4 linked regions of the Homo sapiens genome follow. The protein of the gene in region 1 purifies or fractionates together with the protein of each later gene. This does not show direct contact. Each region holds a gene or a part of one and is shown in the gene's direction. Other genes may lie near its edges.

Region 1 (4,466 bases):
CTGCGGCCCAGGTTGTGAGGCCCCCTGGGTCTCGCTCGGGCTCTCAGCTTTTCTTCCCTCCCACGCTTCCCCCAGCTTGCTCCGCTCCCACCAGGTCCGGCTCCTTGCTGTTCCTCCAGCGTGCTCAGCACCCTTCTGCCCCAGGGCCTTTGCATGTGTGCCTCCTCCCTCACCTCCTTCTCCATTCGGGTCACCTTCTCAAAGACCTCCCCACCCTCCTCTGTACGGCAGCCCTGCTGGCACCTGCTTCCGTGTCCGGCTTCATTGCTTTTCATAGCACGCGGTGGCTGCTTTACGCGTTGGTTTGTTTGGGGTCTGCCCAAATGCAGGCCAGGGACACTGGGGGCTCGGTTTTGTTCTTGATTTGTCTCCAGGGCTTGGCACAGAGCAGAAGCCAGGAAACGTGGGTGATGGAAGGAAACATGAACAGGGAGACGCAGGACGTGAGGAAAAGGGAGCAGACGCCTTGGCCAGGGGCCCTCTGGGGAGAATCCTCTCATCTGGGGTTAACCATTGTTAGCAGCAAAACCTTTTAAACAAAATCTTACACAGAACCCCACAATACAGTTATCTATTTATTTTGAGACAAGGTCTCGCTCTGTCATCCAGGCTGGAGTGCAGTGGCAGAGTCACGGCTCACTGCAGCCTCAAGCTCCCAGGCTCAAGCCATCCTCCACCTTAGCCCCTCAAGTAGCTGGGACTACAGGTGTGCACCACCATGCCCGGCTTTTTTCTTTTTTTTAAGAGATGGGCTCTCGCTATGTTGCCCAGGCTCGCCCACTCCCTTGTTTTGTTTTGGTCACACAGTTCAGAGAAAATCTTGACATGTGTAAAAATTAGGAATAGGAACAAAAAAAAAAATCAGGTATCCTGTTCAATGAAGCAAAAAAGTCATATGATTTCATTTCCAAACCGTGAAGCTGCATTCGACTGGAACATCCTAAAAGGTAGCACACAACACATCTGACTTTGAGTGGATGTTTTGCTGCATTTTCTAAGCGTTCCAATATCATATTAAAAAGTCGAGGCTGGCTTGCAGACCCTCTGAAGCCCCAGGTGGGGTTGCCAAGTAAAAGAACCCCGGAATAGTTTTTTACGTCTAAGAATGTCTTGTTAAATTTGTATTTCAGGCATGGCACAGACCTAGGCTGAAAAACCGACTCACTGTTTGTCTGAAATTCACGTTGAACCTGGCGTCGTGCACTTCCATTTGCTAAATGTGGCCACCTGGCCCTGTTCAGGGAAGGGGTTTGGGGAACGCGCGGCGGGGTGGGGCGGGGCCTGGGCGGAGCCTGCCGCGCCTGGGCGGGGAGATGGCGTCATCAGACTCTTGGGGGCGGGGCTGCCACGCATGGGCGGGGGCGGGGGCGGGGAGAGAGGGCGGGGTCAGACGTGAGGGGGCGGGGCGGAACAGAACTGGGCGCGCGGGGGCGGGGCCGGGCGCGCCGGCGCACGTGACGGTGGTTGCCAGGGTGAAAGTTCAGCGCGCCGGCGGCACTTCCAACATGGCGGCGGCCGGGGCGGCGGTGGCGCGCAGCCCGGGAATCGGAGCGGGACCTGCGCTGAGAGCCCGGCGCTCGCCCCCGCCGCGGGCCGCACGGCTGCCGCGGCTGCTAGTGCTGCTAGCGGCGGCGGCGGTGGGGCCGGGCGCGGGCGGTGCGGCGCGGCTGTACCGCGCGGGCGAGGACGCCGTGTGGGTGCTGGACAGCGGCAGCGTGCGCGGGGCCACCGCCAACAGCTCGGCCGCGTGGCTCGTGCAGTTCTACTCGTCGTGGTGTGGCCACTGCATCGGCTACGCGCCCACTTGGCGGGCCCTGGCTGGGGATGTGCGAGGTGAGGCGCGCCCCCGCGCGGGGACCCCCCGACCCCCGGGACCGCGGCCTTCCGGGACCCCTTGCGACCGCCCCAGAAGGCGGGTCCCGGGGCCCCTCCCCCGTATTTCTTTCCTTACCGCAGAGCCAGTCCCTGCCCCACAGAGGCACCCGACTCGGACCAACCCTGGCCTTTCCAGGGGCGGGAGACTAAGCCAGCTGCTCCCCATGTCTCTCCCAGTTAATCCCCGTTAGATCCTGACGAGTTGGGCTGTCTGAAGTCAAAATGAAACCATTCTCCCGCAGCCCTCACCGCACGCTTGGGGATAGGGAAGCCCTCCCGTATCCCAGCTCTCAAAATACCTATGTTTTGAGCCCCAAGAACTTCATTGACCTTCCAGGCCTCCTACCCTACCTGTTTCCTAGCGTCCACACACCCCATCCCCAGTGCCCAGAATTCCTGTTCTCTGAGGATCCCTCATTCCTATTCCACACTCGTAGCCACCCCATTCCCTTTGAACCTTCATCATTAACTTTCTGGTTCGGATCGCTGGCCATATAGTGGGTGCTCAAAGTGAACCCACAACTTAGAAGTCCAAATACTCTGGAGACTTCTCTATAATACCCCAAAACAACCTATAAAGCAATTTTTTTAACTCTACAAAGAATTTCATTGGTGGGCTCCTTGATCACAGATGCACAGCCTTTGAGAAATCTTTCACCAAACTGCTGGTAGTGTTCCGCACTTTATTGTTTAGTGCTTTCATCTGGTCGCACGTTGTTAACCAGTCACGAAGTTACTCGCCTGCTCTACAGGTTAGAGTTGGCGTGGGAGGGGGCATTCACAACACCCTTCCCTTAAAATGGTATTTAAATCACTGAAGTAGGAGGTCCTCCCGACCCAGTGAGGTTTGGCAGGACTTCCTGTGTTGTGCTAACCTCAAATTACATGTTTCAGTGGGCAAGATCTGTAACAAATTGCTACTCTTTCTTCCTGCACCTTTGTTTTTATGCCTTACACCCAATCCTGCTGTATTTTTCTCATCGCAAACAGATTTGTAAAGAAACTTTTTTTCAAGTCTAAGTAGGGCTTTTGTATGTTACTGTAAATGGTTATCTTTAAAATGCATTCTCCTCTTAGAGAGCTGGGGCCTTTTGATTCTAATGGATTCCTCCTCTTTGATCTCATGTTTTCTTATGTCCCTGTTGACCTGACTCAGAACTGAGGTCAGAGACTGGAAGAGATGGACAGAAAAACTGTTCAGTGGGGTTTTTAGACACTGCTTTTAGGAAAACAAACAAGTAATTCAATCACGTAGGGAACCCTTCAGTTCTTGTGTGTTATTCAGTGGCAGAAACAGATATGTTCATTAAAATGCAGGTGGCCCTGGCAGGACTTGGTCACTTTTTTTGTGGGTTTTGGTTTTGATTTTTTTTTTTCAGTTGAGTCGCTGAAGTCTAAAGATCGTACCAGATTCAAATATTGCAAATTCTGTAACCGAAGCAGCACATAGGCAGCCTTGAGAACTGTCCCTGGAGCTCAGAAGGAAGGCCCCTCCTGAGAGCCACACAGTAACGTCCATACCCAGTGGTGTGATGAACTCAACTCAGTAAGCCTCCTTTAGTGAGGCTGACTGTCTTCCCAGTCACGACAGGAAGAACAGGCTTGTGCCTGAGACTGAGACTGGAGGAGGATATGGCTGAAAGTGAAAGACAGCGGTGACCTGACCAGGCAGCAGGGAGAGGGCTTCAGGGAGCCCAGGCAGAGGGTCCTGTTGGCTAAAAAGCCAAACTATAAAATACTGAAAGAGGTTTGTTCTGAGCCAATAAGTGTAGTGGCCATGGCCAGGGGAACAGTGTCAAGAGGTCCTAAGAAAGTGTGCTCTAGGCAGTCACGTTAATTTGATTTTATACATTTTAGGGAGACAGAAGTTATAGGCAGAGAGACATAAATCAGTACATGTAAGGTATAGGAAGGGGTAGGTTTACAGATCATAGGTGGATTCTGACTGGCAATTGATTGAAAGAGTTAAGCTTTGTCTAAAGACTTGAAGTCAGCAAAGAGAAATGCTTGAGTTAAGCTAAAGGGGCTGTGGAGGCCAAGGTTAAGTAGATGAAGCCTCACAGGCAGCAGCCTTGGGGAGAATAGAGGGTAAATGTCTCTTTTCAGACCTGAATGCTGTCAGACTCGTTAAATGTCTCCTAGATCCAGGAAAGACCTAGAAAGGGAGGGAGATTCTCTACAGATGCAAATTTCCCTCACAAAAGACAGCTTTGCAGGACCATTTCAAATATGTCAGGGAAATAAATGTATTTGGGGGTGAAATATTTTGATTTCCTGCAGGGTGTGCTATTTGTCATGTGGTGCTGTACCCGAGTCAGGCTGGAGTTTGGTGTCGTTGCTGCTGAGGCTGTGCTGTCTGTCTGTGATCTCTGTTTCATCACGCTGGTCAGCTCTGCCTAAACTCCAAAGGGAGGTGATGTAACCAGGCGTGTCTGACCTCCCTTGCCGTCAGGGCCTGGAATTTCTTTCCTCAGGTTGCCCTGGGGTCTCCTTGGCCAAGAGGGGGTTCAATTCAGTCAGTTAGGGGACTCAGGATTTTATTTTTGGTTTACAGTCCTGAGAGCCAAGCTGTGCCCATGAGGCTTGTGGGA
Region 2 (3,702 bases), on another chromosome or scaffold:
GTAGTGGAAAGAGCGCTGAGCAAGGGGCGTTCAGGAAGGAACCCTGAGTGGGAACCTGGATTCTAGTTTTCCTTCATCTACCATTTATTTGTCAGAGCTTAAGCAAATCACCTTCTTCTGTCTCTCATACTTTCTGTTCAGATGTTGCCTTTTCACAGTTCCTCCCTAGGTACTGTAGTTCCCTCTATCCTTTTGACCACTTTCCCTGCCACTCTGACCTCATTCCCTTTTTAAATTTTTCTTTGAAAAACTTGTTTACTGTTTTATTTAAAATTTACATTTATATTAAGAGTTATATGTGTATATGTGTGAATATATATTCATACATGTATTTCACACAAAGTATCAATGTTATATTTATATAGCAAATATATTTGTTTTTATTCTATATATTTGTGCTGTATAAGTATATATTATATTTTATAATTATGCTATATTGTAATAGAATTATGTTCTGTATTCTGTAGAGGCTAAACCAGATTATCTTTTAAGTTTCCTTCAAGTTCTGAAAATCTGTGATTTTCTTGGTCTTTTTTTTTTTTTTTACCACTACCATGTCCAGTCTTATAGTATGTAATGTAAAGCTACAAAGCAAGAATGAGATTTCCCATGTTTTGTAGGTGAGCTGCAGAGGAAGATTGGCTTGAAAGTACTTGAAATGAGAGGAAATGCAGTTGTGGGGTACTTACAGTGTTTCGATCTGGAGGGCGAGTCTGGGTTAGTGGTGCGAGCCATAGGAACGGCGTGTACTCTGGATAAATTAAGTAGCCCAGCAGCATTCCTTCCTGCATGTAATTCCCCATCCAAAGAAATGAAGGAGTAAGTATGAATCAATGAAATTGTTCTTGCTAAGATTTTTATCTTTTATCTATGCTTTTTCATTTGATTTGAAACATTTTAGTAGGGTTGTTCAACATTTTCTCTGTGATGATTTTTATTGGTGATGACTGTCAAAATTTAAAACTTAAAAATATTTAAATATTCCTAATATTTTATTTATACCGTCTTATTTATTTTTATTTTTATTTTTTGTGACAGGGTCTTGCTCTGTTGCCCAGGCTGGAGTTCAGTGGCACAGTCTTGGCTCACTGCAGCCTTGACCTTCTAGGCTCAGGTGATCCTCCCACCTCAGCCGCCTGAGTAGCTGGGACTACAGGGGCAGGCCACCACGCCCAGCTAACTTTTGTATTTTTAGTAGAGATGGGGTTTTGTCATGTTGCCTAGCCTGGTCTCAAACTCCTGGGCTCAAGTGATCTACCTGCCTTGACCTCCCAAAATGCTGGGATTTACAGGTGTGAGCCACTGTGCCCTGCCTATGCCATCTTAATATGAAACAAATTAAGTAATATAAAATTAAACTTATTCCAGATATTTAGACACTGCATATATAAAGCATAAAATGAATATTCAAGCATTGTGTGGCATTTTATTTTCTGAGGAATACTTAAAACCCTCTACCAGATAATCCAATTATACTTATTAATGGCCACATAGTATATAAAGCAGGAAAAATTGATTTGTGCAGAAGTGTTAAACTCAAATGTCTAGAGGCCAGGGAGTTTATATGAATAAACTAACTGAGTGTAATTAAATAGAGTATACTGCTGCTTGTAAAGCCAAGGTTGGCAAACTTTTTCTGGGAAAGGCCAATACTTTAGGGTCTGCCCATACAATCTCTTGTCTTTATTTACAAAAAAAGGAGTTTGCTGATCCCTATTCTAAAGAAATTTAGAGTCATGCATTTTAGAAAATCTATGTGTGATCCTGCAAAACACTTCTGTTGGCTTGATTTGGCCTGTGTGTGTCATCATTGTGTCAGAGGCAGAGATTTTCAACATGATGGTGGTCATGACTGTCATCACAGAGTGTTTGGAACAAGATTTTTCAGTCATAATGATTAGGGTGCTAGGTCCTGTTGGGGACTAAAAACGCTGACTATCCCGCACAGCAAGGGACAACCCTATACAATGAAGACTTGTTTCATCCTAAATGCCTTTAGTACTTCGGTTGAAGACCACTCATCTAGAGATTCTTCTAAGTCAAGGGTTGGCAAACTTTTTCTGTGAATGACCAAATGGTACAGGTAAATGATTTAGTTTTTGCTGATGCTACTTCATAACTGCCATTGTAGCACAAAAGCAAACATAAACAGTATGCAAGTGAATACAGTGTGACTGTGTTCAAATAAAACTTACTTACAAAACAGATGGTAGGACAGATTCGGACTGCAGTCTGTAGTTTGTGGACTCCTGTCCTAGATAATCAGGGAGTCAGAGTTGTATAGTCAGGAAACCTAAAATGTTTCCCAGTTCAGTAGTCAGGAGGGGTTGAATAGAAAGGTATCATAGTATGAAAAAACATGTTTTTTCACCATCTTTTTTAAAGTGAAATTTTCATCTTTATCCTAAGTGCATTCTTTTTGTTAGCCATTTTATTTCTGCTGGCCATTAGTCATTTGGGTTGAATTTTATTCATAAGAGGAAGCACAGTGTTACATACTGCTTAATTTTATTTGGAAACACATTGGCAAATGAAATAATTGTTTTAAATAAATCGAAGAATGAATTTGCTTTATATTCCATTTAAAATATCTCCTAGAAAGATAAGAATTGCCAGCTGCCAGCAGTAGAGTCAGATTGCAGGTTTAGCTTTTTGAGGTATTCAGATTTTTTTCCCTCTCTCTGTAGCAAATTTAAGTAAATATTTACTAGCAAATTAAAGTGCAAGTTTAAGCAAATTTAAGTAAGTTACCTAGTGGAAGGAGAATGACAAAGCTATATTACCTGTTGGTTCCTTAGAATGAAATACAGAGAGCAAGGGGATATGTTTTGCATGCATTCAGGAAGAGTTCTATTAGTGTAAATCTTCTGGGATTGTATACGTTTTCTCCTTTTCTAATCTTGTTGTAGCCTCATGATGGACGTAAGTTCCTTCCTTAGGATTTTCTAAAAGGCATCTTACTAATTAAGTCAAGTTATTTTTTAAAAACCCTCAATACTCAGGCTGTTTTATTTCAACTGGCTTCATTGTATTTTTTGAGAATGAAGCAATTTGGGTTCTATTTCAAAGCCTATTTTATGATTCAGCTGATTATAACTATTCTGGTATTTAATTATGTAATATTGTTGATTCTAGACAGGAATTTGATAAAAGGTGGTTTAGATTATGTTATTGACTGACTGGAAAGGAATATTAATATTATAAATACCACAGGTTATTATGAGGCATCCTTTCATGCAGAGAGACTGATCGAATCAGAAAACTCCAAGAGTACATTATGGTGATGTTCCAGTGTATTTGAATTTTAATTTGATGCCATAGTTTGAACATTTTACACTGTTCATTTTAGTTTTTTCATTTTATTTTACCTACATTAATGGTGTGTTCTACTTCCTAAGTTTTTTTCTTTTTGATGTTTAGTGTCATGCACACTATAAATCCCTTTGGTGTTTTCCAGCTTAACTCTCTTGACAATAGAAAGTGCTTTTAAGTATGAGTTATTGCTTCTTTACTTAAAAAAAGTACTACGAGACAAATTCTCCTGTGTATACTACTGATTATAATAAATATAGCATTGTTTATTTTTAAGTCTTGGATTTTTTAATTCTTTTTGAGAATTCTTATACTTTTTCTCACTTCAGTGGAGAAATAAAAACAAAAACAAAACCTTACTCATTTTTTGGTGTAAAAGTAGATCACCAA
Region 3 (3,702 bases), on another chromosome or scaffold:
CAGCCTAGGTAATATAGTGAGATGCCCATCTACAGAAAAACTTTTTTTACTTAGTCAGGCATGGTGGCACTCGCCTGTAGTCCCAACTACTTGATAGGCTGAGGTGGGAGGATTGTTTGAGCCTGGGAGTTCAAGCTCACAGTGGCTATGATTTTTGCCACTGCACCCAAGCCTGGCGACACAGCAAGACGTTGTCTCTTTTTTTTTTTTTTTTGAGACAGGATCTTGCTCTGTTGCCCAGGCTGGAGTGCAGTAATGCCATCATAGCCCACTGTAGCCTTGCCCTCCTGGGCTCAAGCAACCCTCCAATGTCAGCCTCCCAAGCAGCCAGGAGTACAAGTGTGTGCCACAATGCCTAGCTAATTTTTAAATTTTTTGTAGAGATGAGGTCTCACCATGTTGCCCAGGCTGGTCTCTAACTCTTGGGCTCAAGTAATCCTCCTGCCTTGGCCTTCCAAAGTGTTATGTTTACAGATGTGAGCCACTTTCCTGGCCAAGACCTTGTCTAAGAAAAAAAAACAAAGGCTGGGCGCGGTGGCTCACGCCTGTAATCCCAGCACTTTGGGAGGCCGAGCCGGGCGGATCACGAGGTCAGGAGATCGAGATCATCCTGGCTAACATGGTGAAACCTCGTCTCTACTAAACACACAAAAAGTTAGCCGGGTGTGGTGGTGGGCGCCTGTAGTCCCAGCTACTCGGGAGGCTGAGGCAGGAGAATGGTGTGAACCCAGGAGTTGGAGCTTGCCGTGAGCCGAGATCGCGCCACTGCACTCCAACCTGGGTGACAGAGCGAGACGCTGACTCAGAAAAAAAAAAAATACTATCAAATACCCTCATTGTATTGTAATTGAGTATGAATTAATAATTAACTATGGTGCCACTAATAAGAACTATGTTTATCGAGTGCTTCTTCTCTACTGGATATCGTGCTAAGATCGTGCATCATCTCATGTAATTCCCTAGGCTCTTGGACAGATACTACTATTCCCTATCACAAATGAGTCAGCTGGCTGGGCGTGGTGGCTCACACCTATAATCCCTTTGGGAGGCCCCGGCAGGTGGATCACCTGAGGTCAGGACTTTGAGACTAACCTGGCCAACATGGTGAAATCCCATCTCTATTAAATATGGCTGGGTGCAGTGACTCACGCCTGTAATCCCAGCACTTCGGGAGGCTGAGGCGGGCGGATCACGTGGTCAGGAGATCGAGACCATCCTGGCTAACACGGTGAAACCCCGTCTCTACGAAAAATACAAAAATTAGCCGGGCGTGGTAGTGGGCACCTATAGTCCCAGCTACTTGGGAGGCTGAGGCAGGAGAATGGCGTGAACCCTGGAGGCAGAGCTTGCAGTGAGCTGAGATCCTGCCACTGTACTCCAGCCTGGGCGTCAGAGTGAGACTTCGTCTCTAATAAAAAATAAATAAATAAATAAACAAAAATTAGCCGGGTGTGGTGGCAGGTGCCTGTAATCCCAGCTACTTGGGAGGCTGAAGCAGGAGAATCACTTGAACCTGGGAGCCGGGAGACGGAGGTTGCAATGAGCCAAGCTTGCGCCACTGCACTCCAGCCTGGACAGCAGAGCGAGACTCCATCTAAAAAAATAAAAATAATAAATGATAAAAAAATGAGCGAGCTAAGGCTCAGAGGTGTCAAGTAATGTCAGAGTTTCTTGAAATCCCTAGAATTCAGAACCAGTTCCGTAAACCTCAGACATGGCTCAGCCACCCACTCCTCTCTGACGGTTCCAGGGTGACTCTGGAGGACCCCTCAACTGCCCCACAGAGGATGGTGGCTGGCAGGTCCACGGTGTGACCAGCTTTGTTTCTGCCTTTGGCTGCAACTTCATCTGGAAGCCCACGGTGTTCACTCGAGTCTCCGCCTTCATCGACTGGATTGAGGAGGTGAGGAGGGCAGGGCGGCCCGGAGGGCTTTAGGGTGGTGGCTCTTCTGAGAGGTGACAGGTGAGAAACATCGGATCCTGGGGAGGGCCTGAAAGGATCCTAGAAGCTCAGTGGGGAAGGGCCCTTGGGGACATTCCAGAAAGGCTTGGGGATGTTTTCTGATACAGTGTGACCCCAGGAACTTGATGGCTTCTGGGTGGTGCTTGGAACTACAGCTGAACTTCCTTATTTCAACAAGTATTTATAAAGTATCTCCTCTGGTCTTGTCCTCTCTTGTCAGGGAGGATAGAGAGACATGCCAGACAAGAGGCTGCCTGGTGGGGGACAGGTGATTACATGAATGAGAACGATGCAGTCTGATGAGAGCCGAGAGAGGGGAGTCCAGGCCCCAGACTTCATCTGGGGATGGGTGATCAGAGAGGACTAATAACGCTCATGGTAACAGTAATAGCTAAACAACAAAAAAAAAGAGAGTAATAGCTGGGCATGGCATAGTCATGCCTGTAATCCCAGCACTTTGGGAAGCAGAGGCAGGTGGATCACGAGGTTAGGAGTTCAAGACCAGCCTGGCCAAGATGGTGAAACCCTGTCTCTACTAAAAATACAAAAATTAGCCGGGCATGGTGGTGGGTGCCTGTAATCCCAGCTGCTTGGGAGGCTCAGGCAGAGAATTGCTTGAACCTGGGAGGTGGAGGTTGCAGTTAGTCGAGATCATACCACTGCACTGCAGCCTGGGTGACAGAGCGAGACTCCGTCTCAAAAAAAAAAAAAAAAAAAAAAGAGTAATAGCTAGCTGGGTGCAGTGATGCCCACCTGTAGTCCCAGCTACTTGGGAGGCTGAGGCAGGAGGATCGGTTGAGCCCTGGAGTTCTGGGCCATAGTGCGCTATACCCATCAGGTTCTGCACCAAGTTTGGCATCAATGTGGTGACCTCCTGGGAGTGGGGACCACCAGGTGGCCTAAGGAGGGGTGAACTGTCCCAGGTCAGAAACAGAGCAGGTCAAAACTCACATGCTGAAAAGTAGTAGGATCACACCTGTGAATAGCCACTGTACTCCAGCCTGGGCAACACAGCAAGAGCCTCTCTCTTAAAAAAATGAAAATAAACTAAATAAAATAAAACAGTAGTGCTTGCTTTGGCAGCACATGTACTAAAATTGGAATGATATAGAGATTAGCACGGCCCCTGCGCAAGGATGACATGCAAAGTCATGAAGCCTTCCAATAAAAAAACATTTCTGGTCGAGTGCAGTGGTTCATGCCTGTAATCCCAGCACTCTGGGAGGCCAAGGCCCATGGATCACCTGAGGTCAGGAGTTCAAGACCAGCCTGGCCGACATGGTGAAACCCCATCTCTACTAAGAATACAAAAAATTAGCCGGGCGTATTGGTGCATGCCTGTGGTCCCAGCTACTCAGGAGGCTGAGGCAGGAGAACTGCTTGAATCTGGGAGGCGGAGGTTGCAGTGAGCCGAGATTACGCCACTGCACTCCAGCCTGGGTGACAGAGCAAGACTCCATCTCAAAAACAAAAACAAACAAACAAACAAAAAAACAGTGATGATTTATAGACCATTTAATCCCTTGGTTCCCTGACCCATGTTAAAAAAATATATATATAAGGCCAGGCACGGTGGCTCATGCCTGTAATCCAAGCACTTTGGTAGGCCAAGGCAGGTGGATCACAAGGTCAGGAGTTCGAGACCAGCCTGGCCAATATGGTGAAACCCTGTCTCTACAAAAATATAAAAAAATTGGCCAGGCGTGGTAGTGCGTCGCTGTAATCTCAGCTACTTGGGA
Region 4 (3,702 bases), on another chromosome or scaffold:
TACAGAGATGTTGAGTAACTTGTCCAAGGTCACAGATAAGAAATAGCAACTGGGCATGGTGGCTTATGCCTGTAATCCCAGCATTTTGGGAGGCTGAGGCGGGAGGATCACTTGAGACCAGGAATTCAAGACCAGCCTGGGCTACACAGTGAGACTCTGTGTATAGAAAAAAGAAAAATTAGCCAGATGTGGTGGCACACACCTGTAGTCCTAGCTACTCAGGAGGCTGAGGTGGGAGGATTGCTAGAGTCCAGGAGATGGAGGCTGCAGTGAGCCAAGATCACGTCACTGAATTCCAATCTGGGCAACAGAGTGAGAACCTGTCTCAAAAAAAAAGAGAAATAGTCAGGATTTGAATCCAGGCTAATCTGGCTCCAGAGGTCATGCTCATAAATCCAAGGCTATGTGGGCTCTCCATGCAAATTATTTAATATCAGAATTATGGTTATAATGTTTCCTTTCTCCCTCCTTGTTAAATAAAATCATAACACCTTTCCAGGGGATGAGCATCTTTCCAAAAAACTTATCATCCCTGCACTTGTCCTCCCCCAGACTCTTCCCACTGCTCTGCACACTTTTTGTGCTCTGCCCTGCACCCTCTGCCAGGATTCTCACCTGCCATTTTTTCCTCACAGAAGTGCATCAGCAGAGGGGAGCTCCAGGTGTCTCTGTCATATCAGCCTGTGGCACAGAGAATGACAGTGGTGGTCCTCAAAGCCAGACACTTGCCGAAGATGGATATCACCGGTCTCTCAGGTAGCAGCTATTTACTTCAACCTATTTCTTACTGTCTGAACCATCCCCGACTCCTTGCCTGTGGCCCAGATAGACCTCCACACTTCAAGATCCTTGCCTCTTTCACTTTTAATCTGCTCCTCTTTCTGTAGACATTCTCTTCCTGATGAGTATCTACGTCCAATAGATTTCCCTGGCTAGGAAGATTCTTCAGTTGAACAAATGGGGTCTTTACATTTGGCAAGGTATCCTAAATAATATTCATGCCAGGTGCTAAGAGAGACTTCTCAAAAAGGCTGCAGGCATTTGTCTCTGTGCCCTTTAATATACTTCTTGGTATCATGGGATTTCTTCAGACCTAACCTGAGAAAGTTGTTCTGTTCTATTCCTGCTTGGTTTCCTTGGCCCCTCATCCAGGCAGGCAGACTCACATATAGTCAGTGTGTGTTTATTGTGCAATCACTAAAGAACACATGGGATGGCCATCAAAGATACGAACAACAGAGCCCCCCCTTTCCCAACATGAAATTACCATTACATAGGAGAGGACTGTGTCATAGGTCTGTCTCCCTTTTTCTTATCTCTTTGGGGGCCCCAGATCCTTATGTCAAGGTGAACGTCTACTACGGCAGAAAGCGCATTGCCAAGAAGAAAACCCATGTGAAGAAGTGCACTTTGAACCCCATCTTCAATGAATCTTTCATCTACGACATCCCCACTGACCTCCTGCCTGATATCAGCATCGAGTTCCTCGTTATCGACTTCGATCGCACCACCAAGAATGAGGTGGTGGGGAGGCTGATCCTGGGGGCACACAGTGTCACAGCCAGTGGTGCTGAACACTGGAGAGAGGTCTGCGAGAGCCCCCGCAAGCCTGTGGCCAAGTGGCACAGTCTGAGCGAGTACTAATCCTGTTCTTCTCTCCTCTAATCCCCGGGGGCCAAGCTGGGGAGGGATGTGGAGGGGAAAAAGATGACAGAGAAGTGGACTCCAAACCTCATTTTAGTTGTAGAAGAAAATTTCTTACAAAACAAATTCCACAAAGAACACCCTATATGACCACAGCTGCAGATCAGTTCTTAGCAATGATGTTTTTTTTTCTGCTTTGCAAGGCGCTAGAATCTTTTATTTTACTTTATTTTTTTTGAGGTGGAGTTTCGCTCTTGTTGCCCGGGCTGGAGTGCAATGGTGAGATCTCAACTCACTGCAACCTCTGCCCTCCAGGTTCAAGTGATTCTCCTCCCTCAGCCTCCCAAGTAGCTGGGATTACAGGCACCCACGAGCATGCCCGGCTAATTTTTTGTATTTTCAGTAGAGATGGGTTTCACCATGTTGGCCAGGCTGGTCTCGAATTCCAGACCTCAGGTGATCCACCCGCCTCGGCCTCCCAAAGTGCTGGGATTACAGGTGCGAGCCACCGTGCCCGGCCTCTGGTTTTGTTTTGTTTTTTTTTTTTAATGGGGGACAAAAGAGAGGGAAAGACCCCTATAAATCTATATATAACAATGTAACCATATACTTGCATGTCTAATACAAACTGAAGAAATTAGCCTAACTGCCAATATCAAGTTGCAGATTTTAATCCATGGAAATTGTGTTTTGTGCTGAATTGTATTTGCTGATTACCTGAAATTGGCTTCTTTTTATTGGGCTTCTCTGGAGAATTTCTCCCACTCCCCACCTCTGCAGAAGAAAATTTTGCTCTTATAAAACCTCATGTTTTCATCATTCCCATCTTTTCTTTTTATTGCCTCTTATATCTCTGCTCTTTGACCTCAAGGTCTAGAGGTCTGCAGTAAGCCAAGAAACAAAGGTGGGGTGGATGAGGCAAGGTTTGCAGGAGAAAGAGGAATTGAGAAATGGGGTATTTTTGCTATCAGCTCTTCTGCTATGAAGTAGTAAAAGGCAGTCTATAATTAACTGACAGACCTAACTGAAGCACAGAGAATACATCAGACTTATGCATCCAAGACATCAGAACTTGGATTTTATCAAACTTGATGACTTCTCTAAAAGGAGCTTTGGAAACTTCAAATTCAGCTATAGGATAGTACCAATGAACACATCCAGCTGATCCCAAAAGCTGTTTTCAGGTATAAGGACAAGGAGAGGAGACAAGTGACGACAGCCATTCCCCTTTGCAGCTATCTACTGTAGTGACAGCCATTTCTTGGTTGATGGGTTGGAAGTCATCAGAGGTTTGAAGAATTACACTGGCCTTTGTTTTTCTGGAAATGCCGACCATGGAGATGCTTTAGAGTCTTCTCAAATAGCTTAGATGTTGTAATGAGGTTAGCTTTGCTTCATAAAACAGGGGCCCTCAGAAGTTCTCCTTAAATTTTTCAATAAAAATTTAGCTCTTAAAAAAATAACAGTGTGACTGAGTGAATGAAGATAAGTTGGATTCTTTCAGAGCATTCTTTTCCTCAAAACGAGCTGCATAATTCTTGGAATTTATGTCTTACCACATGGTGGAGGGATGGAGGAACTACAGGATGCAATTCTTCTTCTACCAATGGGCAATAGAGGTTGAGAGAGATTCAGCATCTTTCTGGGATTAGAATTCAAGTCTCTTTACTCCTACAGCAGCTGTGTCTCCAACGTTGAGACTTTGCAGATGGCACAGACTCCATGGATAATAGGTAAACTTGGGGCCGGGCGCAGTGGCTCACGCCTGTAATCCCAGTATTTTGGGAGGCCGAGGTGGAAAGATCGCTTGAGCCCAGGAGTTCAAGACCAGCCTGGGCTACATGACGAAACTCCATCTCTATCAAAAATACAAAAAATTAACTAGGTGTGGTGCTGCACGCCTGTGGTCCCAGCTATTCAGGAGGCTGAGGTGGGAGGATCATTTGAGCCCAGAGGTAGAGGCTGCAGTGAGCCATGATCATGCCACTGCACTCTGGGCTGGGTAACAGAGTGAGATCCTGTCTCAAAAATTAATTAATTAATTAATTAAAATAAACT

The links. The genes of interacting proteins can lie anywhere in the genome.
Region 2: the proteins of QSOX2 (region 1) and C2CD5 purify together in Homo sapiens (affinity purification with mass spectrometry; one large-scale study listed by BioGRID and IntAct). This does not show direct contact.
Region 3: the proteins of QSOX2 (region 1) and CELA3A purify together in Homo sapiens (co-immunoprecipitation; one large-scale study listed by IntAct). This does not show direct contact.
Region 4: the proteins of QSOX2 (region 1) and SYT11 fractionate together in Homo sapiens (co-fractionation; one large-scale study listed by BioGRID). This does not show direct contact.

The regions. Positions count from the first base shown.
Region 1 is NC_000009.12:136,242,843-136,247,308, reverse strand, and holds the start of QSOX2 (sulfhydryl oxidase 2 precursor), read left to right. Parts: upstream 1-1,496; 5' UTR 1,497-1,505; coding exon 1,506-1,833; intron 1,834-4,466. UniProt on the Homo sapiens protein: Catalyzes the oxidation of sulfhydryl groups in peptide and protein thiols to disulfides with the reduction of oxygen to hydrogen peroxide. May contribute to disulfide bond formation in a variety of secreted proteins.
Region 2 is NC_000012.12:22,520,543-22,524,244, reverse strand, and holds part of C2CD5 (C2 domain-containing protein 5), read left to right. Parts: intron 1-620; coding exon 621-819; intron 820-3,702. UniProt on the Homo sapiens protein: Required for insulin-stimulated glucose transport and glucose transporter SLC2A4/GLUT4 translocation from intracellular glucose storage vesicle (GSV) to the plasma membrane (PM) in adipocytes.
Region 3 is NC_000001.11:22,007,955-22,011,656, forward strand, and holds part of CELA3A (chymotrypsin-like elastase family member 3A preproprotein), read left to right. Parts: intron 1-1,750; coding exon 1,751-1,903; intron 1,904-3,702. UniProt on the Homo sapiens protein: Efficient protease with alanine specificity but only little elastolytic activity.
Region 4 is NC_000001.11:155,879,865-155,883,566, forward strand, and holds part of SYT11 (synaptotagmin-11), read left to right. Parts: intron 1-635; coding exon 636-759; intron 760-1,324; coding exon of another isoform or gene 1,325-1,333; coding exon 1,334-1,644; 3' UTR 1,645-3,702. UniProt on the Homo sapiens protein: Synaptotagmin family member involved in vesicular and membrane trafficking which does not bind Ca(2+). Inhibits clathrin-mediated and bulk endocytosis, functions to ensure precision in vesicle retrieval.